Linked DNA regions of Homo sapiens. The protein of the gene in region 3 interacts with the protein of the main gene of each other region in a pairwise test. Each region holds a gene or a part of one and is shown on either strand. Other genes may lie near its edges. The genes, in order: COX8A, UQCRB, MAGEA4 and AMOT.

Region 1 (6,559 bases), on a different chromosome or scaffold from region 3:
TCACTGCACTCCAGCCTGGGCAACAGAGCAGGAGTCAGTCTCAAAAAAAAAAAAAAAAAAAAAAAAAAGCCAAGATTCTGCAAAGTCCCTACCCCCAATTAGGAAGGGCACCAGCACCTAAGAAATGAAGTCCACCAAAAAGGAAGACCAGAGAAGGCTGGCCCCTTAGAGGAAAGGCTTCTAGCTGAAGATCCAGCCCCAGTGGGACACACACACACACACACACACACACACACACACACACACACAGACACATACACGCCCATTGGGCTTTGCACAAACAAGGGAGCTGGAGGGGATGAGCCAGAAAAGCTGCACAATGACAACAGGCTTTGTCTTCCCAGGAAGCCAGGCACCATTTAAAGGTACAGAAGCACACGAGGAGTCCAGCTGAGGCACACAAAACCTACCACAGGGCAGCCAGCCGGGCGCTCTTCTCCACACCTCCACCCAGTGCCAGTGGAGGCATGAGCCCAGGCAGGAGGGAAGGCACAATGAATTTCTGAAGTAAAGTTTAAATAGATTTTATTGTTACAAGGGGGACCCCACCAAGCAGGGTCAGTGACCCCCAAGGAGGTCACCATGGAGACATCAAGAGGTCATGATTGCAGAAGAGGTGACTGGAATTGAATGACATGATCCAGGGGAGGCCGGCCACAAATGCAGTAACATGACCAGGATGGGCCGGTGGGGCTGGTCAGGTCACAGTGTGAGGGACAGAACGGACCCCTTCACTCTGGCCTCCTGTAGGTCTCCAGGTGTGACAGGATCCAGCCCGCTGGCAGGAGGAAGGTCACGAAGCAGGAGGTAAGCCCAACGGCCAATTCCTACACAGAGCACAAGAAAGAAGGCACCTCGGAGTCAGTATTCCCCTAGGCTCTCTAAGTCCTTGCAGTTCCCAGGCAGCAGAAAGCCCCGCTCAGGGAGCCAGGACTCAGAGGCAAGTGGGAGGCCCCGCATCCTCACGTTAAAGGAATCCACGCTCCACGGAGCAGACAGAGCAGGTCCAAAGCTACGCTAACCCTTGAGGTAAAGGGTCAGTTATAAGGAGGGGGAAGAGTGAGAGGAAGGAGAGACAGCTGGGGTTAGGGTTCAGGGAGAAATGCACCACCAGATGGTAAAGGAAGGGACAGGAAGCAGGATTTATTGAAACCTGTTTTAAAGCTGGTCTGGGCCGGGCATGGTGGCTCACACCTGTAATCCCAGCAATTTGGGAGGCCAAGGCGGGCGGATCACAAGGTCAGGAGTTAGAGACCAGCCTGACCAACATGGTGAAACCCCGTCTCTACTAAAAATACAAAAAATTAGCCGGGAGTGGTGGCGGGCGCCTGTGATCCCAGCTACTCGGGAGACTGAGGCAGGAGAATGGCTTGGCTTAAACCTGGGAGGCGGAGGTTGCAGTAAGCCGAGATCGCACCACTGCACTCCAGCCTGGGTGACAGAGCAAGACTCCGTCTCAAAAAAACAAACAACAAACAAAAAAAGCAAAGCCTGTATGTTAAGACCCAGGATCCTTGCATGGGCCAGTAACTCCAAAACGATACCTATCCTTCCTTGCCTGAAAACCCCCTCCCAGGCCGGGCGCAGTGGCTCACGCCTGTAATCCCAGCACTTTGGGAGGTTGAGGCAGGCGGATCACGAGGTCAAGAGATCGAGACCATCCTGGCCAACATGGTGAAACCCCGTCTCTACTAAAAATACAAAATTTAGTTGGGCATGGTGGCACGCGCCTGTAGTCCCAGCTATTCGGGAGGCTGAGGCAGGAGAATCGCTTGAACCCGGGAGTCGGAGGCTGCAGTGAGCCGAGATCGCGCCACTGCACTCCAGCCTGGCGACAGAGCGAGAACCCGTCTCAAAATAAATAAGTAAAATAAAATAAAATAAAATAAATAGCAGTAACAACCATTTTCGTCGCTGACAGCGTCAGGCATCCCCCAGTGAACCAACGAGAAAATGGGCTCAGAGCGGCTAAAGAAGTCGGCAGGAGGCGGCGCAGCGAGGAGGCGACAGGAGAGGGAGGGCCTGACAGGACCAGACCCGAGATCCTGGGGCTGTGGGGAAAGACCTAACGCCGACAGCCCCGACTGTCGCCCGGGCACTGTCCCCGTCGTTCGCGCCCTCCAGACATGCCCAAACCGGCACTGCTGCTCCCCGCTACGCTGCGGGGCGCGAGGCATTCTCAGGACCACCTGAGGTCAGCTAGGCAGAAGGGGTCAGCCCACGGCGCCTCCCGCGCTCTTCCAGGCCCGTTCCTCACCATGATCCCAAGCTTCCCCTCCGGCGGCAACGAATGGATCTTGGCGCGCGGCACTGGGAGCCGCCGGGCCGAGCCTGTCAAGCCCCGCAGCAGCAGCGGCGTCAGGACGGACATGATGGCACGGAGTACACCACAAAAAACGGTCAGCCGTAGCCCAAGGTCAGGAAGCCAAAATGGCTGCGCTGGCCGGAAGTTCTGGAGCTGGGGAAGCAGGGAAACTGCGGCGCGGAAGTCTCTCGGAAATGACGCAAGAACACACCTCCCACAGCCCTTGGCAGTTTTTGGCGCGTTCCTCGAAACAGCCAATTGACACCTTCCTACGCTATGGGCGGAGCACAAAAGGGCTCTTCTTCGAGTTATGTTCCGCCTCCAAGGCTTATACTTGTGAATGACATCTGGGGCCACCCAATCATGTACGCGAGAAGCCTAAACTGTTCTTGACTCCTCCCTTCATTCATACTGTTAAATCTCTCTCTATTCAGGCTGGGCGTGGTGGCTCACGCCCGTAATCTCAGAACTTTTGGGAGGCCGTCTGTACTAAAAAAAAAAAAGTACGGGCTGGGCGCGTTGGCTCACGCCTCTAATCCCAGCACTTTGGGAGGCCGGGGCGGGTAGATCATCTGAGGTCAGGAGTTTGACACCAGTCTTGCCAGCATGGTGAAACCCCATCTCTACGAAAAATACAAAAATTGGCCGGGCGCAGTGGCTCACGCATGTAATCCCAACACTTTGGGAGGCCGGGGCCGGTAGATCATCTGAGGTCAGGAGTTTGAGACCAGTCTTGCCAGCATGGTGAAACCCCATCTCTACGAAAAATACAAAAATTGGCCGGGCGCAGTGGCTCACGCTTGTAATCCCAACATTTTGGGAGGCCGAGGCGGGTGGATCACCTGAGGTCAACAGTTCGAGACCAGACTGGCCAACATGGTGAAACCCCGTCTCTACTAAAAATACAAAAATTAGCTGGGCATGGTGGTGGGCGCCTGTAATTCCAGCTACTCGGGAGGCTGAGTCAGGAGAATTGCTGAACCCAGGAGACGGAAGTTGCAGTGAGCCGAGATTGAGCCATTGCAGTCCAGACTGGGCCACAAGAGCGAAACTCCATCTCAAAAATAAAAAACAACAATAAAAAAAGTTCGAAAGCAGCCTGGCCAACATGGTGAGACTCCATCTCGACTAAGAATACAAAAAATAGCCAGGCATGGTGGTAGATGCCTGTAATCTCAGCTACTAGGGAGGCTGAGGCAGGAGAACTGCTTGAACCCGGTAGGCAGAGGTTGCAGTGAGCTGAGATCACGCCACTGCACTCCAGCCTGGGCGACACAGCAAGACTCCGTCTCAAAAAAAAAAAAAAAAAAAAATCTCTCTATTGAGAGTCCCCTCCTCTCCACCAGGCCTCCGTCGTTTTTGTTGAGAATTCCTGACACTGACCTAGTAACCAAACCTCCCTCAATTACTATTACACTCTTCAATTCCAGTTACCATGCTGGAGCAGCCAACTTCCCTTCCTTCCTACCCTATCACTCTCTCTCCCTCCCCCATCCCTTCCTTCTTGGTTTTTTAAACCTAAATCTGACCAAGTCATATACTTTCAGTGGCTCCCCATTGCTTCCTAGTCAAAATCCCAATTCCCGGATGTCACTGTCCAGCCTCAACTCTCAAAACTCTTCAATATTCCACACCTTCGACCCTGCTCTCTGATTTCCACCAACAAGCCTTTTGTTGCATTCAAAATGCACTCTGCATTTTGTTATTGATGTTGAGACAAGGTCTAGCTCTAAGCCCAGGCTGGAGTGGAGTGTGGTGTGATCTCGGCTCACTGCAGCCTTGCAACCTCCACCTCCCAGACTCAAGCCAACCTCCCACCTCAGCCTCCCAAGTAGCTGGGATTACAGGTGCCCACCACCATGCCTGGCTTTTTTTTTTTTTTTTTTTTTTTGAAATAGAGTCTTGCGCTGTTGCCCAGGCTGGAGTGCAGTGGCACTATCTTGGCTCTCTGCAACCTCCGCCTCCCGGGTTCAAGCAATTCTCCTGCCTCAGCCTCCTGAGTAGCTGGGATTACAGGCATCTGCCACCATGCCCGGCTATTTTTTGTATTTTTAGTAGAGACAAGGTTTCACCATGTTGGCCAGGCTGGTCTCGAACTCCTGACTTCAGGCGATCCACCCACCTTGGCCTCCCAAGGTGCTGGGATTACAGGCATGAGCCACAGCGCCCAGCCTAATTTTTGTAGTGTTTGTAGAGCTGGAGGGGGGTCTTGCTATGTTAGTCAGGCTAGTCTCAAACTCGTGAGCTGAAGCGATCCACCCAGATCAGCCTCCCAAAGTGCTGGGATTACAGGCATTTGTCAGGGCACCTGGCCTTGCCTCTGCACTTTGGGTTTTGTTTTTGAGACATGCATCACCCAGGCTGGAGTGCAGTGGTGCAATATCAGCTCACTGCAACCTCCACCTCCCTGGCTCAAGCGATTCTCCTGCCTCAGCCTCCCAAGCAGCTGGGATTACAGGTGTATGCCACCACACCCGGCTAATTTTTGCATTTTTAATAGCGACAGGGTTTCGCCATGTTGGCCAGGCTGGTCTTGAACTCCTGGCCTCATGTCATCTGCCCGCCTCAGCCTCCCAAAGTGCTGGGATTACAGGCATGAGCCACTGTGCCCGGCGTTGCTTCTGCATTTTATGTTCATTTTTTCAGCTCCTATGCAGGCTGCCTTTTTCACCATGCTAACTCCTGCTTCCTGGCTTCCAGTTAATGATACCACTTACTTTATTCAGTGAATATTTATTAGCCTCTACTGTGTGTTAGGAACTATTGTAGACACCAGTATGAACGAGGTGGATAGAGTTTCTTGTCACAAAGCTGACTTCTGGAGGGAAAAAACAGACAATAAACAGGCACTTAATTAGAAACTATTGTGTAAGTGTCACGGTGAAAATAAAACCATGATGTGCTAGGAAGATATGTGGGGTGGCACTACTCAGGATGCCTTCGCTGGTCACCCCAAGCCTGTGTCTCCTCTGTGCCCAGCAACACCTGTGTCAGCCCTGCCCCACATGGTGGGTCTCCATCAAGACTAGGGGCCACCTGAGGGCAGAGCCTGTGTTGGTTCACCACTGTTTCCAACCAGACACTCAGAATGTTTATAAACTGCAGGAGGCTGAACAGTATTGAACTAGGTAGAAGGCACATGAGAAAGGGGGTGTGGGACCAGCCCCTGGGCCAGGTCTTAATGGTACAATCTCATTCCAGGTTTACAATAATGTCATGAAATAGATGCTATTATTATTTCAATTATTTTATTTTGAGACAGTGTCTTGCTCTGTCGCCTAGGCTGGAGTGAAGTGTCACGACCACACCTCACTGCAGCCTCGACCTCCCAGGCTCAAGTGATCCTCTTGCTTCAGTTTCCCGAGTAGTTGGGGACTACAGGCACACACCACCATACCTGGCTTTTTATTTTTTGTAGAGGCAGGGTCCCACTATGTTGCCCAGGCTAGTCTTGAACTCCTGGGCTCAAGCAATCCTCCCACTGTGGCCTCTCAAAATGCTGGGATTACAGGCGGGAGCCACTGCGCCTGCCCTATTTCGAATTTTTTACAAATGAGGAAATAGGCCTGAAGAGTCAGGTGACTTGATCAAGATCATGAAGCTACAAGGCTGCCTTGCCAGGATTACAGGGCAGTTCTGTTGCCTCCAAAAGCCATGCTTTTAGCCACCACACATGCTGCTGCAGAGGTGGACTTCCCAGAAGTTCCAGTTTTGACATTGAGGTTAATAACATCAAAGGCTGTGGCAGGGGGTGGCGATGGGATGGCAAGAGATTGAGAAACAGGAGCTTTGGAAGAGAAACCTCAGCCCATGGTTTCTCTTCCATGGTGGTGGGGCGGGGGGGTGGTGTCACAGCAAGGTTGCAATGAACTCGCGGTGCCCTAGAAGGGGAGCTGTGTCTGAGCTTCCTCTGGAGGGATGTGTTCCCAGGCCCCAAGCTCATCCCTCTTCATCGCTCCCTCACCTTCCCCACCCCATTCTAGTTTTTTGTTTGTTTGCTTTTGGCTTACAACAACACAAATTCATTTTCTTACAGTTCTAAAGATCAGAAATATAAAATCAAGATGTCAGAAGGCCAGTATTTCTTGTCACGGCTCCAGGGCAGAATCCATTACCTTTTATTTTCTAATTTCTAGAAGCCACTTGTATCTCTTGGTTTGTAATCCCTTCAAAAATATGGAACGCTTCACGAATTTGCGTGTCATCCTTGCACAAGGGCCATGCTAATCTTCTCTGTATCGTTCCAATTTTAGT
Region 2 (7,690 bases), on a different chromosome or scaffold from region 3:
TTTATATAATTTAAATTAAAATTTTAAGTGGAAGGCCGGGCGCAGTAGTGCACACCTATAATCCCAGCACTTTGGGAGGCCGAGGCAGGTGGATCACCTGAGGTCAGGAGTTTGCGACCAGCCTAATATGGTGAAACCCCGTCTCTACTACATACAAAAAAAATTAGCCAGGCGTGGTGGCACACGCCTGTAATCCCAGCTACTCAGGAGGCTGAGGCAGGAGAATCACTTGAACTCGGGAGGCGGAGGTTGCAGTGAACCGTGATTGCGCCACTGCACTCCAGCCTGGTGACAGAGCAAGACTCTGTCTCAAATAAATAAATAAATAAATAAATAAAATTTTAAGTGGAAGAGTTGGGAAAGGGGGTGTAGAAGGAAAATGTCTTACTACTTAAATCATTACCAAGTCGAACATTTTAGAGGCTTTCATCCCTCTTCTCTCAAAAAAACTTTAAAAAGGAACTGGATTTAACATAATGTGATTTAATTTTAAAATCTTCTGATGTATACAAGAACTGAAATGGTTTTTGGAACCACAGTAACACTTGCAAAAGCAATACTCTCAGAAAAACAAAAAAAAAAACAAAGAAACAACAACAACAACAAAAAACATTAAACAGCACAGCTGCTTACCCAGTTTATTGAATCCTGCAGCATTGTAATACCATTTTCGAATACCATCCAGCCACTTGCCTGATGCTGAAACTGATAATTGTCACACTGTTAATTGCTACAATTTAATTATACTATATGAACACATTGATAGGCAAGCAACCAGTACTCAGTTATCTTGCTGATGAATGCAAACATAGAAATAAATTTCCTTTTAAAAGTATATAGTATATACAGCAAGAATTTAATCAAAAGAATTAGATTTAAAAGAAAAAAGTTTATACTCTATAAAATGTTGATAAAAAGTGCTTATTTTATTTATGAGCAAAAGTGGTTGCAGGAAAATGGTGGCAAGTCATGAAAGAAAAGGGTAAACTCAAACACTGAATGTACAAAAGATCCATAGGTACATCGTGTGCCCTTATGCCTGCCCTGTTACCTTCAGAAATGAAGGGGTGGGAGATAGGAAAAGGACTTGGAAATTTCCATCATTTGTAGTTTCATAAATAGATCACAGGAAATAATTGTAAACTTTTCATTTCAAGAGAGCTGGAGTTGTAGGGAAAAGACAGTGAGATTTCAGCATAGACTGGCAGGTCTAAATGACCCTCATCCTCTAAAATTTTTACTCGATATTACAGTTATTTCATTTGGCCACATTCTTTAAAAATGTATGTATTTTGGGGAGGATTTTGATACCATTAGTCATTTAAACATTAATATGGATTCGTAAAAGAAGTCCATTTACCTCCTCCTAAGCAACTAAGTTCCCCCCAAGGGAATGGATATTGAAAAAGGATGAGAAATAGGTAATTTTAAAACTGTTTGGGGAACAGGGCTGAGCCTGATGAAGTAACCCAGCAGGGTCCAAGTACAGCAGGACCGTATCTGACATTTTAGGAGAGACATTTTACAAAAGGAGAGGTAGAACAGGTTTGTATTCTCTTTTAAAATTTTGTCTAGGGTTAGCCCTTACCAAGGAAGGAAAGCAAACTCTCCTTTCACTCAACTCTCCTTGCTTGCAAACTCAGTGCACTACAGATTACGTGGCTTTAGCAAATCTCCTTGGAAATTAAGAGTCATGTATAAAACTGCTGCTAGAAAAACAAGTATCAGTCAACAATCTACAAACATACTTGTGGAAGACAGATTATATTCAACCACCTATCAGTGACTATAATAATATTCACTAAGCACTTATTGTGCACCAAACACTTTCCTATTTGCTTTACCAACATTAGCTGATTTATTTACATGTCTGTTACTACAGAAGGGGAAGCTGGCTTACAGAAGTGATCCCACCCAAGGTCAGAGTTAGCTAATGGGAGTTGAGATCTGGTCTATGTAGTTCCCAAACACGCACAGAAGCAGTGTCTTGAATTTAGTAAGACTCCTTCAATATCTGCCAAATTAATAAAATAATTATTTAAAAAGTCTCCCCCACCCCCAAAAAGCTCAATGTCAATTAGGTTAACGGATGTTTCTGGCAACCTGATGTTTCCTAACAGCTTCACAATTGCTGGGGGCGGGGAGAAAAGGATCAACATTTTTTAAGCTACTCCAACTTGGTTGCATTGCAGTGAGACGAGATTGTGCCATTGCACTCCAGCCTGGGCGACAAAGCAAGACTCCGTCTCAAAGACAAAACAAACAAACAAACAAAACGGCTACTCCAACTTGTACCGCCAGAGGGCAGAGATTAGCAAAAAAAAAAAAAAAGAAAGAAAAAAGAAAAAAAGAACCTACAATAAATTCAAATTTCTCCAAACCTACTGATCAAGCTGACGCTCTAGATAATCCAAGGTCAACCTGAAGCGTCGCTCGTATCCCTTGCTCAACTGTCTCTGATTCGCAGTTTGAGAAGCGCGAGGGGTGCAATGATATTTCCAATTCTACTTCCTTGGGTCACTTTGCCTCAGTTATCTTATCAGCGTAAAAGGGAAATTAATATCTCCCTCGTCGCAATGGCAAGAAAATTTATAGGGCCAATGCACACGATAGAGCACTTGGGTCATAGAAAGCACTGAGCTCATTCGGGTTGAAAGTCATCCACTAGTTATCCTCTTGTGCCCTTTAACTTTTCTAAGGCCAAGGGGAAGGACTTCCAAGCACGGGCAGCTGGAACTCCAGGGCTGTCAGAGCCACCGCGGGCACCTTCACAAACAGCGGGTTAACATCCCAACCCTATACAGGCAAGCCCGCCCTGGGGACAGCAAACGAGTGGGGAAGCACATCCTTTTCACTGGACTGAAGCAGCCAATTTCCCTTCCGCGACAAACTTGGCCACTTACAAAGAAGAGAGAAAACGGAGCAAGCTGCAGCAAAAATAAACGGTGAAGCGCGACGATGCCGGCCAAGAAGACCCCCAGTTACTTACCGGCCTGCTTACCAGCCATTTTGACCAGAAAGAGAAGCGTTGCCTTCTGGGTAAGTCATAGAGGACAAGCTGGGCCCAGTCCGCAGGCGCGTTACGTCACATCGCGAACAGAGAAAGGCCGCTTGCGCAGGCGCAGTTCTGACGACTGCCGTTCAGCACCTGCGTAAGCACCTCTCGGCCAGGGTGAGGCCAATGGAGTAGGCGGGGCATTTTGCGTGCTACATTCTAAGAAGTATTGGTTGTGATGTGATGGGAAGAACACAGGTCAGGAATTAGGAGACCAAGGCTTAAAGCTGGGTTCTGTTATTTGCTGTTAATAGCTATGGGAGCGTGGACAGTATTAATTCAGCTCTTTGTGCCAGGCAGGAAGCTAAATGTTTTAAGGGCATCGTCTTACTTTCTATTGAAGGACTGATGGATGTGCCATCCCAAAAATATATGGAATTGGTACATTGATTATTTCGAGTTGAAAATATTGGAGAAATTGTAGTTTCAGAAAAGGTTTGATGACCTATCTCTTCCTGCATGCAGCAAGCCATAAAGCTTCCTCCAGGATTCCTCTGGAGTACCCGTCCCTTACCAGAGGGAGAAAATAGCACCTATCACCAGAGACGAAACTGGGGGCTGCTTTGGACCTGAATATACTTTCCGAAGTAACCGTTATCTTCCACTAAGTTTACACCCCAACACACACACTTTTCTCCTAATGACTCCGCGAGAAATTTACTGCCCCTAGCCAGATCCCCTTTCTTCTGATTTGTAGTTCGTGTAAAAAGTATAAAGGCATCTTACATTGGCCACTTCACTCTTTTGTGCGGATCCCCATGTACATGTAAAACTAGTAAAATTAGTATGCTTTTCTCTTGTTAATCTGCCATGTGTCAATTTGGTTCCTAGATTCAACCAAAGAGCCCACATAAGAGCAAAGGGGAGGGAGGGTTGGAGGTGATCTCTCACTCCCCTAAACTATCTTTTAATTCTAAAAGTACTGTAATTATCTCATTGTAGAGAGGAGAAAGCTGAGGCTCAGAAAGGTTGAATAACTTGTCCAAGAGCACATGACTAGAAGAGTCCAGGTTCTTCTTCCAGAATCTGAAAATCCAGATGCAAATTTGGGGCTCCTTAATTCTAGGGTCATATGCTATACTGCTACACTACTAATCCAGGAAAGACACCAAGCCTTTCAGGCCTTGGGTTTCTCCAGCTGAAGATCTATATCTAGCTATTTTAGTGGAAGGTTAGGTCAGAAAAGGTTTTGGGTTTTTTTTGTTTGTTTTTTTTCACCCTTTTTTTTGTTGTTCAGCCTCTGTCACCCAGGCTGAATGGCACAATCTCGGCTCACTGCAACCTCTGCCTCCTGGGTTCAAATGACTCGTGCCTCAGCCTCCTGAGTAGCTGGGACTACAGGTGTACACACTACCATGCCCGCTAATTTTTGTATTTTTAGTAGAGACGGGGTTTCACCGTGTTGGCCAGGCTGGTATCAAACTCTTGACCTCAAGTGATCCACCCACGTCAGCCTCCCAAAATGCTGGGTTACCCGCGTGAGCCATCATGCCCAGCAGAAAAGGTTTTTAAAGATTAAATCTAAGATGTATTGCAGAATTTGCACACAATTTTAAGACAAAAGAGAAGTATATAGATTTTCTCACTTTTAAGGTCTCAACCCCAACATGCGAAGTCTTAGGCATAAACATCTAGAGACAGAAAACAATTAGGGGGAGCTAGCATGACTGATAGTTACTGGTGAACTTCTACCATTACTCAGTGATATCTTTTTTTTCCCCTCAGTTTTAAGCTCAGAGCTGGGACAATATAGAGTAGAACCTTGTCTCATCCTAAGTTCAAAAGGTTAGATTTAACGATCTTAGTCACATTCCAGTTCTAAAATTATATTGATTTTCCTTTTTCTTCTATCTCCATGCTGTCACAATTTCTTCATTAGTCAGTCCTGTATACAGCACTAAAGCTGATGAATGATCTATCTTACACTAGCCAAAGTGAAGTCTGAAAGATGTGAAGAAATGCAGTACATTTGTACATTGGCACATTGCCCTGCAGAGGGTAGGTACTCAATAAACTCTCCTCCCTTCCACCCTTTAAGTTTTAGCTTGCTGGTTACAGGTGAAGGTGGCAAGAAAAGACATATCAAAAGATCTGAAACCCAAAATTGTCACAAAATCCAGCTCCTAAGGAATTAAGCTAGAGAGACTGAATGTTTGCTGGTAGTGATTGTTGATTCAAAAACTATTTTTGGTTTTCTTTCCTCCCAGCACAGGATTAGGGATTGCCTCTCTGCCCTATTAAAGTTAGGCATGGCCATGTGATACTTTGGCCAAGAAAAATGTGATAACTTTTTAAGAGCAATTCTTCACATTCCTTTCCTTTTCCATAGACTGGCAACACTCCAGAAATGATGGAGACAGGATACATCAACCTGTATCACTGAAGATGATGTGGAGCAGAGCCTTTGTGGTCCTAAGAAACATGTATAAGATAAAAACTTTTGTGGTTTTTCAATCATTTGAGGTTTTAGGATTGTTCATTGTATCAACACAACTTGCCTATTCTGACTGCTAAGGTTGTTCACTGGGTTATTCATAAAGGCAAAATGAGGTTGTGAGCCACAGAAAGAGAGGACAGGATGGTTCCATGGTGTCCCCAGCTTATTTTTTATTGTTTCCTGTTTATTGATCTCATCCATTGGAGAACTCCATGAAAGCACATATCTATGCCACACTCACCACTGTATTATAGAACTCAAATGTCGGTTGCATGAATAAAATATGTAACAGGAAGGCCACTATACCTGGCCCTGACCAATTACAAATTTAGTTTTTCATGAGGTTTTTTAAAGGGCATCCAGCACACCACAGAACCCTGTGCACAACAAACTACCCCCAAAGTTAGCGGCTTAAAACACTTTCTCCCAATTCTGAATTCCGCTGGGTCGTTCTGCTTAGTGTAGTATCTACTAAGTCTGGGACATCCCAGATAATTTCTTCATGCATGTCTGGTGCTCAGTTGGCATGTCTGAAAAAGCTGGGTTTGGCCAGACATCTTTCTGTCCACCTAGTTTCTCCAGCAGAGTAACCAGACCTCTCTACACAGTAGCTTAGGGTGCCAAGAGCAAATGTTCCAAGAGGGCAAGCCCTGATGTGCAAATCCTTAAGCCTCTGCTTGACAAATGTCCTCTGGGCCAAATCACATCGGCCCAGAGTCAGTGTGGGAGAGGACTAACTACACAAGAGTGCAAATACCAGGTATGGTTCATGGGGGCCCCCAGTGTTAACAGTCTACCCAATCTGGTGATCATAAGGCAGACAACTGAAGTCATGATGCTTCGTTTTACAAATAAAAAAGCAAAGGCTCAGAAATGAAATCACTTGCCCAGGATAACACATGTTGTAAATGGAAAACAAATATTTGTTTACTGGTAATAAGTCAAAGGCTAGTTAAGCCTTTCACTATATCTCATTGCCCCTAATCTTTAAACTCCACTTTCCTTTTCCTTATTCTTAGCCAACTGTGAATATCTGTGTTCAAGAAGTTAACAATGTAGATAATCCAAAATGAAGTGTGTTTTGTAGCATTATCTGAGCAGTAGATATTAGATGACTAATGTAGTATGCTCTGGAAACTCGTAACAGTTCAAAGGAAATAAAGCCATTTTATAATGAAACCACTTTAAAAATCCTCCACTGTTTTCATCTTCACGAGAATGACAAAGCACCAACTTAAAGTAAACCAACTCTTTCCCCTTCTCTGAGCTTGCTGTATTTCCTAAGAAGGAAGGAAAAAGTCAAACAAGAATTAAGTCACTAGGAACTTGATGAAAGTTCTACCACAGTATATGTACCCAAATTTACAGTATCAAATGGTTTCCAATATCAGTTGAGACCCGAGGCATTTAAAAATATATTCATTTATTCATATATATATTCACTTTACAATACTGCATTTTAACATACATAAAAATCTAAAGCGTTTTTAAGAATTTTTCAAAGTCCTGTACTGATGCTTTGGCAATCTCTTCACAAAATATTTCATCAGGAATAGATACTAGTTTGTCCAAAGAGATGTAGTTAGGTTTTGCTGGATCATACTGTGCTCTTCCTAAATAGGTAAGAAACAAGTGTCTTTCTTTGACCTTAAACAGCCTTGTATTAAATACCTAGAAAAGAAAAAAAAGTTTTTAAAAAACACTGCACACGGGAGGATGAAATATTAAAAAGTTTACTTGGCAAAAATTTTAATAGGTTAACCAATACCAAGTACTGACCATGTGTTCAGTAAGTAGGATAAATGCCAGAGGATTTAAATCCTATATTTTCTGTGAAGAAACTAGAAAAAGGGATTCAAAATCAACATACAAAACAATAATAAAATAATTCAGGGCTATACTGTGTGCAAAGAAGATTGAGTGCTCCAGAGACAGAGGAGAATGTGTTAAAAAAGCAAATCTTCGGCCGGGCGTGGTGGCTCACGCCTTTAGTGAGGCTGAGGCAGGCGGATCATCTGAGGTCAGGAATTCAAGACAAGCCTGGCCAACATGGCAAAACCCTGTCTCTACTAAACATACAAAAATTAGCTGGGCGTGGTGGCGCATGCCTGTAATCCCAGCTACTCAGGAGGCTGAGGCAGGAGAATTGGTTGAACCCAGGAGACGGAGGTTGCAGTGAGCCGAGATCGCGCCACTGC
Region 3 (7,209 bases):
GGGGGATGGGAATAGGGGTGGGGTACGCTTAGCCCTCTCTTAGGGTCCTGAGATTGATGCCCGGCAGAGCCTGGCCTCACTAGTCTTACACTAAACACCCCAAGCTCTGACTCCAGAGTCCCCTGCGACTTCAGAGGCAGTGGGGTGGTGGGCGCCCCAAGCTCAGAAGTCCGCCCACAGGTGGCCCACGGCAGGTAGGAGTGGTGCAGGATTATTTGGGGTCGTCTATCTGGGGTGGTGGCCTCCTGAGTCCTCCTCAGCGTCTCACCTTGACTCCTCACAGGGCCTGGCCTGCTTCCTTCCACCAATCCCAAGCTGCTGGTCAGACAGCAGCTCGCTTCTCTCTAACCCCCAATGCGCAAGTCAGTGGCATCACATCCGGGCCCCTGAGGCTTTCTTGGGTTGAAAGCGGAAGCGGAAACACGATTCAGCGTGGATGGGGGTGGGGGGGAGGTCGGTGGAGGGGGCGGGTTTTTGGGAGTGGGTTGAAAGCGGAAGCGGAACCCGATTCAGCGTGGATGGGGGTGGGAGGGGTGAGGTTGGTGGAGGGGCCCCGGTTTTTGGGGTGGCAGATGGCGGTATGACAGAGGTGGGGGGTCGAGGAGGAGTGCTGGTGGGGGATGGGGGCGCGGATGGGTTTAGGAGTGCAAATGGTAATGGGAAAGGGGACGTGATGGGGGATGGGAATAGGGGTGGGGTACGCTTAGCCCTCTCTTACGGTCCTGAGATTGATGCCTGGCAGAGCCTGGCCTCACTAGTCTTACACTAAACACCCTAAGCTCTGACTCCAGAGTCCTCTGCGACTTCAGAGGCAGTGGGGTGGTGGGCGCCCCAGACTCAGAAGTCCGCCCACAGGTGGCCCACGGCTGGTAGCAGGAGTGGTGCGGGATTATTTGGGGTCGTCTATCTGGGGTGGGGGCCTCCTGAGTCCTCCCTCAGCATCTCACCTTGACTCCTCACAGGGCCTGGCCCGCTTCCCTCCGCCAATCCCAAGCGGCTGGTCAGAGCAGCTCGCTTCTCTCTAACCCCCAATGCGCAAGTCAGTGGCATCACATCCGGGCACCTGGGACTTTCTTGGGTTGAAAGCGGAAGCGGAAACCCGATTCAGCGTGGAAGGGGGTGGGAGGGGTGAGGTCGGTGGAGGGGGCGGGTTTTTGGGGGTGGGTTGAAAGCGGAAGCGCAACCCAATTCAGCATCCATGGGGGTGGGAGGGGTGAGGTTGGTGGAGGGGCCCCAGTTTTTGGGGTGGGAGATGGCGGTGTGAGAGAGGTGCGGGGTTGAGGATAGGAGTGCTGGTGGGGGATAGGGGCGCGGATGGGTTTGGGAGTGCAAATAGTAATGGGAAAGGGGAGGCGGTGGGGGATAGAAATAGGGGTGGGGTACGCTTGGCCCTCTCTTAGGGTCCTGAGGTTGATGCCTCGTAGAGCCTGCCCTCACTAGTCTTACACTAACCACCCCAAGCTCGGACTCCAGAGTCCCATGCGACTTCAGACGCAGTGGGGTGGAGGGCGCCCCAGACTCAGAAGTCCGCCCACGGGTGGCCCACGGCTGGTAGCAGGAGTGGTGCGGGATTATTTGGGGTCGTCTATCTGGGGTGGGGGCCTCCTGAGTCCTCCCTCAGCGTCTCACCTTGACTCCTCACAGGGCCTGGCCCGCTTCCCTCCGCCAATCCCAAGCTGCTGGTCAGACAGAGCAGCTCGCTTCTCTCTAACCCCCAATGCGCAAGTCAGTGGCATCACATCCGGGCCCCTGGGGCTTTCTTGGGTTGAAAGAGGAAGCGGAAATCAGATTCAGCGTGGATGGGGGTGGGAGGGGTGAGGTCGATGGAGGGGGCGGGTTTTTGGGGGTGGGTTGAAAGCGGAAGCGGAACGTGATTCAGTGTGGATGGGGGTGGGAGGGGTGAGGTTGGTAGAAGGGCCCGGGTTGTTGGGGTGGGAGATGGCGGTATGAGAGAGGTGGGGGGTTGAAGAGGAGAGGAGTGCTGGTGGGGGATGGGGGCGTGGATGGTTTGGGAGTGCAAATGGTAATCGGAAAGGGGACGTGGTGGGGGATGGGAATAGGGGTGGGGTACGCTTAGCCCTCTCTTAGGGTGCTGAGGTCCATGCCTGGCAGAGCCTGCCCTCACTAGTCTTACACTAATCAACCCAAGCTCTGACTCCAGAGTCCCCTGCAACTTCAGAGGCAGTGGGGTGGTGGGCGCCCCAGACTCAGAAGTCCGCCCACGGGTGGCCCACGGCTGGTAGCAGGAGTGGTGCGGGATTATTTGGGGTCATCTATCTGGGGTGGGGGCCTCCTGAGTCCTCCCTCAGCGTCTCACCTTGACTCCTCACAGGGCCTGGCCCGCTTCCCTCCGCCAATCCCAAGCTGCTGGTCAGACAGAGCAGCTCGCTTCTCTCTAACCCCCAATGCGCAAGTCAGTGGCATCACATCCGGGCCCCTGGGGCTTTCTTGGGTTGAAAGAGGGAGCGCAACCCGATTCAGCGTGGATGGGGGTGGGAGGGGTGAGGTCGGTGGAGGGGGCGGGTTTTTGGGGGTGGGAGATGGCGGTATGAAGGTGGTGGGGTGTTTGGGAGGATGGGGAGCTGGTGGAGGATGGGAGTGTAGATGGGTTTGTGAGTGCGAATGGGAATGGGAAGGGGTTAGGGGATGGGAATGGGGTTGCGGGATGGGAATAGCGGTGTGGTACGCTCAGCTGGCTTTTAGGGTCCTGAGGTTGATGCCTGGCAGAGCCTGCCCCCACCAGTCTTGCACTGATCACCCCAAGCTCTGACTTCAGAATCCCCTGAGGCTTAAGTGGCAGTGGGGTGGTGGCCCCCCCACCACAGACTGAGAAGTCTCCAGGAGTGGCCCAGGGCTGGCAGCAGGGGTGGTGTTGGATTTTTTGTGGTCGTCTATGTGGGGTGGGGGTCCTCCTGAGTCCTCCCTCAGCATCTCACCTTGTCTCCTTATAGAGCCTGGGCGGGCTTCCCTCCGCCAGTCTCAAGCTGCGAGTCAGACGCAGAAGCTCGCTTGTCTCTAACCCCCAGTGCGCAAGTCAGTGGCATCACATCCGGGCAGCTGGGGCTTTCCTTGGTTGAAAGCGGGGGCGGAACCGGGGATCCTGCCTGGATGGGGGTATGGGTGTTGGGGGGTGGGGGTGCAGGTGTGGGGTGGGGGATGAGGGTGCGGGGGTTGAATTGGGGATGGGGGTATGAGGGTGGCACGGGGTTGGGGAGGATGGGGTGCTGGTAGGGGATGAGGGTGTGGATTGGGTTAGGAGTGTGGAAGGGAATGGGAATGGGGTGGGGGATAGGAATGGGGGTGGGGAACCCTCAGCTCTCTCTTAGGGTCCTGACTTTGACGCCTGGCACAGCCTGCCCCCACCTTGCCTCCTCACAGAGCCTGCGCCTGCTTCCCTCCGTGGATCTCGAGTTGCTGGTCAGACCAATGCGCAAGTCAGGGATGTCACATCCGGGCCACCTGGGTTGACAGCAGGGGTGGAACCGGATTCGGCCAGGGTGGGAGTTGGGGTGGGGGAGGAGGCGAGAGGTCCTGGGGTTAGGGGTTGAGGTAGGCGTGCCCCTCAGTCCTTTGATTCCTGGCATAGCCTGGACCCCTGTTCTCTGCGGATGGTGTCTGCTCCCCTCAGACCAAGGTTCTGACTCCTAGTCCCCTGAGGTCACAGTGGGGGGAGAGGTGTCCTTGGGCGACAAAGCCGCTGGGGTCTTCCAGGGCTGACAGGAGGGACTAAGCTGGATTCTGTGGCCCCTCTTTGAGCGGGGGTTTACCCTCAGTCTTCACTCAGGAGGGTCCTCTTCCTGGGTCCTGGCTCTTTGTTGAAGTGATGGGTTGGAGATGCTCTTTTTCTCTCACCTCTGAGCATTTGCCCAGCTGTACCCCTTGCAGAAAATGGCTGCGGGTACCAGGCGAGGTGTTCCCTGGGTGGCTGCAGCACCCGTTATTGTAGTGACCTCTGTGAGAAGATGCACGCCTTCCCACGGGGGCTCCTCCCCAGCCAGAGCTGGACTTTGGAAACCTTTTTTCCTCAAAGAAATATATTTTACATATCTTCCAAGGATATATATAGGTAGCAACATATATATTTATTTCTATGAAAGAATACCTACCCTTAGTTTGCATGATTCACTCTGATACCCTATTCAACTTCTATTCCATTGTTTATGTTCTGTTAAAATAATTCTTTTCGAGACCAGCCTGGCCAACAGGGTGAAACACTGTCTTCACTAAATATAGAAAAAAAATTAAAAAATTAGCTGGGCGTGGTGGTGGGCGCCTATAATCCCAGCTACTTGGGAGGCTGAGGCAGGAGAATCGCTTGAACCTGGTAGGCGGAGGTTGCAGTGAGCCAAGATCGAGTCATTGCACTCCAGCCCGGGCGACAGTCTCAATAATAATAATAATAATAATATTAATAATAATAATAATAATAATGCTAATCCTCATCCACTAAGTTGGTTTCAGGTTGTAATTAGCAGATCTCCGGAACCATACTGCCTTAACCAACCCAATTTTCCTGCTGTCCTGCTATTACCCTAGGGTTACTGGAATCGTGTTTTGAGGTGCTGCCTCAGATTGTGCAGTGCAGTGAGGTGGAGATTTTAAAATGTTCATCCTATTCATTCTGTCATCTGACGTCTAGGCAGGCTATAGACTTCAACATCCCTGCAGCCAACCCCCCTCCAACTGACACCGCCCCAAACATAAGTACCAGTTCAACACAGTCCTCAGTCTCACCCAGGACTTTCTGTGTTTTGTTGCTTAGATTTTATTGCTTATATTGTTGTTTTTTCTTTCTTTCTTTTTCTCTTCTATAATTTTCCAGAGTTGATTTGGGAACCAGAGAACAGCAGCCTAAGTGTGACTGTAATTTTTGGCAGCTACAGGTAAGACACTAAATTGTAAATCATTTAAGCAGAATTGACATTTTTACAATGTTCTGCTCCTGATCAATGAATAGGTTATGCTCCTTTACTTATTTCAAACTCCTTTTACCTGAATCTGTCAGTATACTTTGATAGTTTCCTCTAGAAAGACCTTACACATTTTTCTTAGGCTTCTTTTTTGGTAATTCTTGGATTTTGTTGCTATTGCAAATGGCATATTTTCTATTAATTGTTCTAATTAATGGAAATTAATTAACTCTAATAGTTATTGCTATTGTGTGGCAGAGAATTTGATTTTGCTATAGTAATCTGTTGTACACCTCATTCTGAAAACCCATTGACTTGAATATTCCACATGCCTTTTTCTTTGAATTTTCAAGAATGATAAGGGTATTATCACTAAACATTATGTATTTTTCCTATATTCATGCCCCTTATTTATTATGATACTTATAGCTCTGACTTTGTGTCTCAATGATGATTTAAAACGTAGAGATAATAGCCTACATCTACTTCGTGTTCCTGCCTTTAATGATAATTCTTTGAACTTCTTAAATTTGTTTGCTGTTGATTTTAGGAAATGTATGTTCTCTTTCAATATAGGTTAACTAAATATTTTTACCATGAACTCATATTGAATTTCTTCCAAAAGCTTTTCCTGTACCCATTGATGTGATAAATTTTTTCTCCTCTATTTTGTGTGTAAAAAATTACAATGAAACTTTTTTTTCTAATGTTAAATCATATTTTCTTTCCTTGGGTAGAGCTTGTTTGTTCATTTAATATTCTACTAATTTACATAAGATATTTGCTGCTATGTAAGAGAGCTTGTTTATGTGTTTTTTCCATCGGGAGTGGGGGGTGGTCCTCATCTGATTTTTGAATCCAGAAGGGTTAATCTGGGAGAATGAATTGAAGAATTGTCTATATTTTGCGTGCTTTGAAGAGTTGAGATAAGATGATGGTTAGTTTTCCTTGATCATTTGGTGGAATCAGCCTCCGAAACCGACTAACCTGGGACGTTTGAGGATGGCTTGAGCTTTGAATATTGTATAGTTTCAGTTTGTGTCGTTTAATTGAAGTTTTCTTTTTGGATCAATTTGGTCATTTGTTTATTTTATTTCTACAAAATAGTTGGATCATTTAGGATTTCATTTTTAATGGCATGATATTTATGACAAAAAACGTTTTTTTATCAGGGAAGCCTCACACATATAGAATAATAGAGAGACTAACATAATGAACCCAGCATACCTGACGCTCAGCATCAACAACCTTAAATACACGGCAAATCTGGTTCCAGTTAGACACTCACCTACCTGCATCTCAGCTGCTGGAATAATGTGGATCAAATCAAAGACAGCATACCATTTCATCTCTAAATAATTCAATATTCATTTTTAAAAGACAAGGACATTGTACCCAGCTGTACCCCTCGCAGAGAATGGCTGCAGGTACCAGGCGAGGTGTTCCCTGGGTGGCTGCAGCACCCGTGATTGTAGTCACCTCTGGGTCACAATCACTACAAATAAAAACCCAATACAATTCTCATTTCTAAAAAATAAATAAATGATTATGAAATGTTCAACTGTTTTATGCACTTATCTAGAAGACTTATACTTTATAAAAATTTGTTTATTTGGATGAGTACCCAAAAATAGTATTACATAGTGATTTTTTGTAATTAAATCTTCTCTCACCTGTAGGTCCCCTCCACATGATCTGTTTTCTTGCCATCGCTTCGTTGTTGGAAAGAAACATATCTTATGTTCTTTCCAGTTTTCCATAGTCTGGATTTGCAACACTGTAATGTCCTTTATCATATTCTCTAGCCCTTAATTTCTAGGGCTGCAAAATGGCCCAGGCTCGTCAGGTTTATGCCCTGCCCCAGTCATAAATAAGCCATTTCTCCAAATATCTGGTTCCTTTTAATGGGAAATGGTTCTAGAAATCTACTTCTGGGTGCTAGGTGTGCTCATTGCTACTTTTGCTTTTGGTGTTTAATTTAAAAGCTCTTTAACAAACAAAGTTATGTAAATTTTCTCATGTTTTCTTATAGAAGTTGTATAGTTTTTGCATTTTGCATTAGGTCTATGATGTATTTTGAGTTAATTTCGTGAAATACCTAAGGATTTGTCTAGGTTATTATTATTATTTTTGTTTAGATACCCAGTTGTTCATGTACCAATTGTTGGAACAACTATACTTTCACCTTTATTGCTTTTGTTATAAATCACTTGATTGTATGTGTGCAGGTCTATGTTGGGGCTCTATTCTGTTTTTTTAATCTACGTGTTTTTTAATCCATTCACCAAATGAAATACAT
Region 4 (7,025 bases), about 39 Mb from region 3:
AGCTTATATCATCTTTCATTTTTGCCCTTGGAAAGATCTGACAGTCAGCTTGAAGACATTCAGTTCTTGTGACCCAACCTGCTTACATTCTGAGAATTGAATTTGTCAGTTTTTAGATCCCAATCTTCAATATATCTTAAGGGACATTTTGCTGTATAGAACTAAGCAGGCATGATCAATGAGCCTGTGTGTGTAGCTCTATTTTCAGCCTCAGTTAAGGTGGCACATTTAAGGTCAGCCCTGTTTAATACTAGATGACTAAGTGACACCTGTCTTAAATGGTCAATGTATTATAGACAGAGGTTGATTTGCAGACCTGACCATAAAAATCATCCGGTCCTAAAGCAGGGGAGGCAATAGGTCAGAGATGCCCCTGGTTTAACAACAGTGGACACAACAGGCATTCCTTCCGTGACTTCTTAGCCAGAACTCTCAAAATAAGGCAGTTCTGCTGTCCATCTTCTCTTTGAAGATTTTTCCCTAATCCCTCTCCATCTATTCCTGACCTCAACTCTGCTCAACATGGAAAATGAATTCTCTATGATGACACTTATCACAGCAAATTTTCCATAAACTTTTACTGAGCACTTACTGTAGCCAGACATTGTGCTAGGTAAGGCCTAGGGTGGCAATAAATAAATAAATAAATAAATAAATAAATAAATAAATAAATAAAAAGAGAGCCCAGTACTTGAGGAGCTCCCAGTCAGGCAGAGGAGGCCCAATTCAACGGGAAAACAGAGGTATGAGCTAATAGCTCCGGCAACACATAGGGCTCTGCAAAAAACCCTGGGCTACCTGAAAAAGCTCCCAAGAGGAGGAAAATATCAAAAACCTATAAGCTGAGTAGAAGACATGGAGTGTGATGACCAATTTGACATCAAAGATAGGTTGAGATATATCTTTGGGAGTCATTAGCATATGGATGACAGCTAAGGTCATAAGAGAGGGCTGGACCATATTGACTAGGAACAGAACAGAACCCAGGATGAAACTAAACATGGACTTCTGGGGAAAAAAAAAAAAAGATCATTCAAGGGTTAGGTACTTTGCAAATGTGGGAGGGAAAGAAATTCCTTTATTTATCCCGATGGCCTTTCCTCCCATATATCTCCAAGCTAGACCTTGCAATACACAGCTCCAGGGACAGAAATCCCCAGCTGTAGTGTGGAGAGAAAAAAAGAAGTTAACTCTCACCTTTTAAGCTTCTGAGTGCCCTGGTAGCAATCACTATTACGGGTTGAGCCAGAAATGGAAAGGGAAGTTGCTAGACTGTAAGATCTTAGAGGGCATGGGCGGGGTGCGTGATTTTTCATTGTATGCATCCCAATACCTAAAACATTAACTGGTACATAAAATGTGCTTAATAGTTGCATACTGAGTGAATGATAACTTCCCCAAAACTTTGCTAGAGGCCACAGCAGGAGAAGAAAACAAAGAAAGACATGGAATAACAATAATAATAATGTTATTATTACCTTTAGTTTCTCAGCCTTCCTTCTAAGGAGACAAAAGCTCTTTCACTCTGCTATCTTATTTGTCCTTCTTAGCAGCTCTGTGGGGAAATAAAGGCAGATGTGATTAATTCCATTTTAGAACTGGAGAGGGAAGCTCAAGTCCAGAACAGATAGCTAATCATAACTAATTGGACCAGAATTTCACTGTTGCCCATTGGTAGGGCCAGCATTGGAACCCAGGTCTTGCGACTTCCTGCCCTGTGCTTGGTTCTAAGACATAACCCTCCACAGAATTGCCCCTCCAGTTTTTAAGAGGACAGTTCACAAGAGAAATTCATTAGGAAAGCAAACTCCTGAAACACTCTAACAGTATCTTGAGCAAGTGAGTGAGCTGCATCTAAAAGAAAGTAATCTGTTTCCCCACGCCAACACTGGGATGACTAAACCCAGTTCCCAGTGGGGCTCTACTAACATAATTGAGAGCTCCCTGTTTCGCTGTGCCCCTTTTCAAGGGAGCCCCATCTGCCTTCAGTCTGGTTTTTGTGTCTGAGTGGGGCTCAGGTGCTGACTGCAGGTGTGGCATCCAGCAGGTGTATGGACAGGAGCCAGCATTTCATATCTTCATACCAAAGGGCCTGAGTCACTCTCTGAAGGCAGAAGGCAGCCCCTCCTCCTCCTGCTGTTGCCTTGCAAGCACAGGGAACCTGCCTTGCCTGAGGTGCCACTGCAGAACTGAATCTAAACCCTGCCTTCCCAAGAAGGACTAAGGTGAGATTAAACCACAAATCATATAACCCAGCTAACTTTCTTATTTGCACAAACTACTGCAGGCATACACCTACACCGTGGGCACAGCATATGGGAACCTAGGTACAGAATGACCGTCACCTAAAGTGATGCGGGGAAAGGAGGGCCACAACTGGCCCATATTTTACATTTGGCTATAAAGCATTGACTCTACTGCAAATGGCCCTAAAATCTCAGAAGCAAGTACTCACCCCCCTAAAAAAAGGTGGAGTACAGTAAAAAGAACCTGCTAGAAATCTTGCACTCCTGTTCTCACCATAACCTCTTTCCTTCAGGCTTCCAAGGGAGAACCACTTAGCCTGGTCACAGAAAGCACCAGGTCAGAAAATTCATCATGTTCCCCTAACCAAAGCCCAACTGGTCCCAGCCTGAGGCAGACAGAATGTTCCTGGGAGTAAAGGGGGGGGGGGGGTCATCAAAATTTTCTTAGCTTCAAAAACTGTTTGCTTTTTAAAAAAACAATCTGCCTCCCCTACTCTCTCTCTCAGGCACACACACATAGACCAAAGAGAAACTAATTGTAGAAGAAAAAAATGAAATCTTACCTTAATAAAATGGTTTGTTGTCATTTGTTCTATTTCCCTAATTCATACGGGAAATTCAAATAAGCTTTGGTTTATAGCCCATGATCCAGAAAGCAAAACTGGCTACCACACTAAAATGTGATCATTGTATATAAACATAGTAAAACAAAACTCTGAACTGAAAATCTAAATGTAATAAAGAGGAATTAGGTTTCTTCAAAACAGGCAATCTAAATAATTTTCCCCATCTGTGATTTTTATCTTAGTTTGCTATCACATGGAACAAATGTCACTAATTCAATGCAAATACATGCCCCTTGAAAACAACCAAAATGAGTAAGGGATGTACTAATTAGCTTCCTAATGGGGAAGGTTTTAATTGAGCTATTCTTTAACAATCTTCATCAAAGTTTCCAGGGCAACTTCATAAAAGGATGTCAAACCTGGCCCATATTTTTATTCCCTTAAAAATAATTTTCAATACACAGAAACACAGAAAGCTGATTTCTCTTCAATGCTGTTAACACTCAGGCCACTACATTTTCTGATGTCAGCAATCCCCTTCCCACAAATATTCCAAGTATGCACCACCGTCATTCTCCTTTCAATTATGTGGTTTCTCTGCTCCTTTACTGATTGAGTCCAGGCCTCTCGGATAATGAGAAGCATGTGCAGGGAAAATATGCTCTTAAAAAACACATACATCAGTTTTATCTGCATTATAAAGAGGAGAGCAGATCGTTTGTCCATATCAAAAAGATTGAAATGTGAAGTTTGCTATGGGGTATATATAAGGGGAAAAAAAGATCAGTATCAATGCCTAAGGTTGATAGGGGGGCGGCACAGTTATTGTGATCTGATGTGACACCAATAAGAAGAAGGGAGACTCTCCACCAAATCCACCCTTTCTAGCTTGGCCACATTTATATTTCATGTTATCTTAATGTTTCTTTTGGGGGTATTTAAGTTCTGACATACACATGGAAATGAGCCACGAATTGTACAGCAAGCATAAATATTCCATCATTAATAAAATCCAGCTGTGTATAAAACACTACAATGGCTGGGTTTCAGTTACTGGCTATCATCAGTATGTGTCACAAGCAAATATTACTGAAAACTTTCTCCCTTAAAACGTGCATGCGCACACACACAGAAGTTTGCTTTATTCTTTTTCATCTTTTGGAGGAGCTTTGAATAACTCACTGATCTCTATAGCCCTTTTCAACTAACGTTTCTTTTTGAAGCTATTTTTCACCACCCTGTAAGATGCTAGAGTCCTCTTATTTGTACCTCAACTTACCACACAGTACAAAACTGTTTAATTTTTTTTCCAAAAAGCCGAGAGGGCCAATAATACAAATGTTGGGTTAATGGTAATTACAGTCAGTAAGGCAATGGGGCACCAAAGGGCACTGTATGTTATAAGAGAGCAAAGCTCATTAAAAAGGAACACCTGCTCAAGACCCTATAATAAGCCTGCTCTGCCATCATGCAAACACCTTTCATCCAATGACCTCAAAGCATGTGCCCAATATGAAGCATGCCGAAACACCTCTGTGATTATTAATATCCTTGCTTCCCAGAAGGGTAACTGAAGCTTAGAGCAGCTAATTCATTTACCCTTGGTCACATGGTAAGACAGAGAGGGGCTGGGCAGAGAAAACCAGATCCTGGCTTCAAGTCACACAGGCTAATGATATTTCATGGAGTTAGGGCAAGAGTGAAAGTGCCTTTACAAATGTCAAGGCAAGCCCACAGACTTAAAAGAGTAGATTTTCAAGAATTGCCTTAGGAAACATTGGCAAATACACCCATTTGCATTTTCTCCAGGATCATATATTACAAAAAAAAAAAAGTTCCTGTTCCTCATTTGCTACTTTCTAAATACTAAAAACCCATACCACACTTTCTATTCCAGTTAGAGAAATTTAATCTAATTTATGATGAGCCACTGGTTTCCAGGAATGAATCCATCAAATCTTTTTTTTTTTTTTTTGAGACGGAGTTTTGCTCTTGTTGCCCAGGCTGGAGTGCAATGGCGTGATCTTGGCTTACTGCAACCTCCGCCTCCCAGGTTCAAGCAATTTATTCCTCAGTTTCCTGAGTAGCTGGGATTACAGGCATGCGCCACCATACCCAGGTAATTCTGTATTTTTAGTAGAGACAGGGGTTTCACCATGTTGGTCAGGCTGGTCTTGAACTCCTGACCTTAGGTGATCCGCCCGCCTCTGCCTCCCAAATCGCTGGGATTACAGGTGTGAGCTACCATGCCTGGCTAATCCATCAAATCTTAGAGATCACATGTATACCACACCTTTGTTATCAAAGGAAAATTAAAGAACTATGAAATTTGACTACATGGTGAAGACCTCAGATGAAGAACCCATTATGTGTGGGCCATTCTGCTGCTGCACTTCTTGTCTTTTATTTAACTGTCTAAAATCCTTAGTTTCTTTGCTATCTTTTAGTCTAATTTAAACATATTATTTTCCATGCTACAAAACAAGTATATTTGTGCTTTCCTGCTTCTCCTTTCTCATTCTGGAGATTTCATATTCCACTCAAATTTATACTCACTTGATGGGATTTCACCATACAGTGACTTAAAAATCATTGCCAATGATTTACACAAAGTAAACAGTGGACCCTAGTTTTGTTGTTGTTGTTGTTAACAAGAATGGGGGAGGGATAACAGGAGGTCAAAGGAATTAAATTAACAGCCTTGCTAGATACATGAACAACTCCTGAATCACAGAGAGTGTTTAGGGATTACTTATTATATCCATTAGCCTCTCCTGGCATTTGAGAAACAAAATATATGGGAGTCTTCATGTGTCCTCGGTCAGATTCTGACTTAGTTCCTCCACATGGGTTCACAAAGTTAAGTCTTGGGTGGGCTCTTATTGAAAAGCAACATTGTATATATCTGTGGCTCCAATTATCTAAAACTCATGTTAGTACAGGAACCAGGACTTGAAAGGAACTAGAAAAAATGAAAGCAGGTGATCTCTTAGGATGATGGAATTCTTGAAGTTTTGGACAGAGTCTTAGCTTCTTAATTTTGGGTTGTTAAAATGTAAAACATAATGCATCTATATTCATATATCCTTACAGGATCTTTTTTTCTTTAACATGATGACTAGATGATTGAATTTCTAACAACTGTTGCACTTCATTCTAGTAGCAATCATTCACATTCATACTAGATATTGAGGCCTAGAAAGAAAACCATAAACGTATAAGAACTGGCTCTCAAAATTACCCTGTCCAAACCCATAATTTACAGTGGAAAAAAAAAAACTTAACAGAGGTAGTAAACCGAGTTACAGTTGGGCCTAGAGCCCAGGTCCTTCTCACCAATAGGCTCACTAGGAAATCTTATTGCAGATTCTTAGGTTAAAGTGGCATCAGTCGCCATTATTTACTAGAAATAACTTTCTGGATCCCTGGGTTAGTCAAATACAGTAGCTGGAAATAAAACATTTTACCTATATGGGGTGGATAGTCTCATCCTTAGAATTGTTCAAAATCTATAAAGTCTGATTTATTTTCAAAAAGTAATACTAGCTTTCTTCTGCAAGCAGTTGTAGGCCAGAGCTAACGTGGCCAGCATTATTACAAGCCAGAATGATTTAGACAATTAACTAACTCCATTCCATATAACAAAAAGATTTCAAAGGCCAAATAATGGCCTCACTTAATTTAAGCGATAATCATTACAAATTCTTATGTATTCCTTTATGCAATAAATATGCTTCCGAGAAGGCCCAGTTAGAGTGAATTTTTATATATCAAGTCATAGTTTAAAGGCACTAACTAGGAAAGCTAGTACTTACAAAGAAAACCTGTTGTGGATTCTTTTATAAAGCAAATGACCTCCTATTTTCTTTCTTTCTTTTTCTTTTTCTTTTTTTTTGTTCAGATTGTGTGTGTTGTGTGTGGAAGGGGCGACTTCCCTCCTTTCTCTGGGTTAAAAGGGGTCAGAAGCCCACCATGGAGGAGAGTAATGCAGTATGGCCAGCCTGTTTAATACCCCCTTAGTTCCTGGGACAAAATTCTAACCTTTGACTTGGGGGTGGAACCCTAGAATTTGGACCAAAGTCCACAAAAGGCAGCAAGGAGGGAAAAGTAAGTAAGACTAAAGACAACACATCATAGTAAAACACCAACAAAAATTCCTGGGGACAGGAAATCAATGGATCACAATTCTAAACAAATTGGTTTAGTCCCCAGC

What was found.
Region 1: the proteins of MAGEA4 (region 3) and COX8A interact in binary tests that used the Homo sapiens proteins (3 or more experiments, as listed by UniProt).
Region 2: the proteins of MAGEA4 (region 3) and UQCRB interact in binary tests that used the Homo sapiens proteins (3 or more experiments, as listed by UniProt).
Region 4: the proteins of MAGEA4 (region 3) and AMOT interact in binary tests that used the Homo sapiens proteins (3 or more experiments, as listed by UniProt).

The regions. Positions count from the first base shown.
Region 1 is NC_000011.10:63,970,493-63,977,051, reverse strand, and holds COX8A (cytochrome c oxidase subunit 8A, mitochondrial), read right to left. Parts: upstream 2,433-6,559; 5' UTR 2,372-2,432; coding exon 2,258-2,371; intron 828-2,257; coding exon 732-827; 3' UTR 509-731; downstream 1-508. UniProt on the Homo sapiens protein: Component of the cytochrome c oxidase, the last enzyme in the mitochondrial electron transport chain which drives oxidative phosphorylation.
Region 2 is NC_000008.11:96,232,523-96,240,212, forward strand, and holds the start of UQCRB (cytochrome b-c1 complex subunit 7), read right to left. Parts: upstream 3,024-7,690; 5' UTR 3,009-3,023; coding exon 2,990-3,008; exon of another isoform or gene 2,771-2,989; intron 2,015-2,770; exon of another isoform or gene 1,901-2,014; intron 706-1,900; coding exon 634-705; intron 1-633. Other genes in the region: MTERF3 (transcription termination factor 3, mitochondrial isoform 1 precursor), read right to left, coding at 6,969-7,163. UniProt on the Homo sapiens protein: Component of the ubiquinol-cytochrome c oxidoreductase, a multisubunit transmembrane complex that is part of the mitochondrial electron transport chain which drives oxidative phosphorylation.
Region 3 is NC_000023.11:151,908,697-151,915,905, reverse strand, and holds the start of MAGEA4 (melanoma-associated antigen 4), read right to left. Parts: upstream 3,018-7,209; 5' UTR 2,937-3,017; intron 397-2,936; exon of another isoform or gene 269-396; intron 1-268. UniProt on the Homo sapiens protein: Regulates cell proliferation through the inhibition of cell cycle arrest at the G1 phase. Also negatively regulates p53-mediated apoptosis.
Region 4 is NC_000023.11:112,830,816-112,837,840, forward strand, and holds part of AMOT (angiomotin), read right to left. Parts: exon of another isoform or gene 2,810-7,025; intron 1,556-2,809; 5' UTR 1,479-1,555; intron 1-1,478.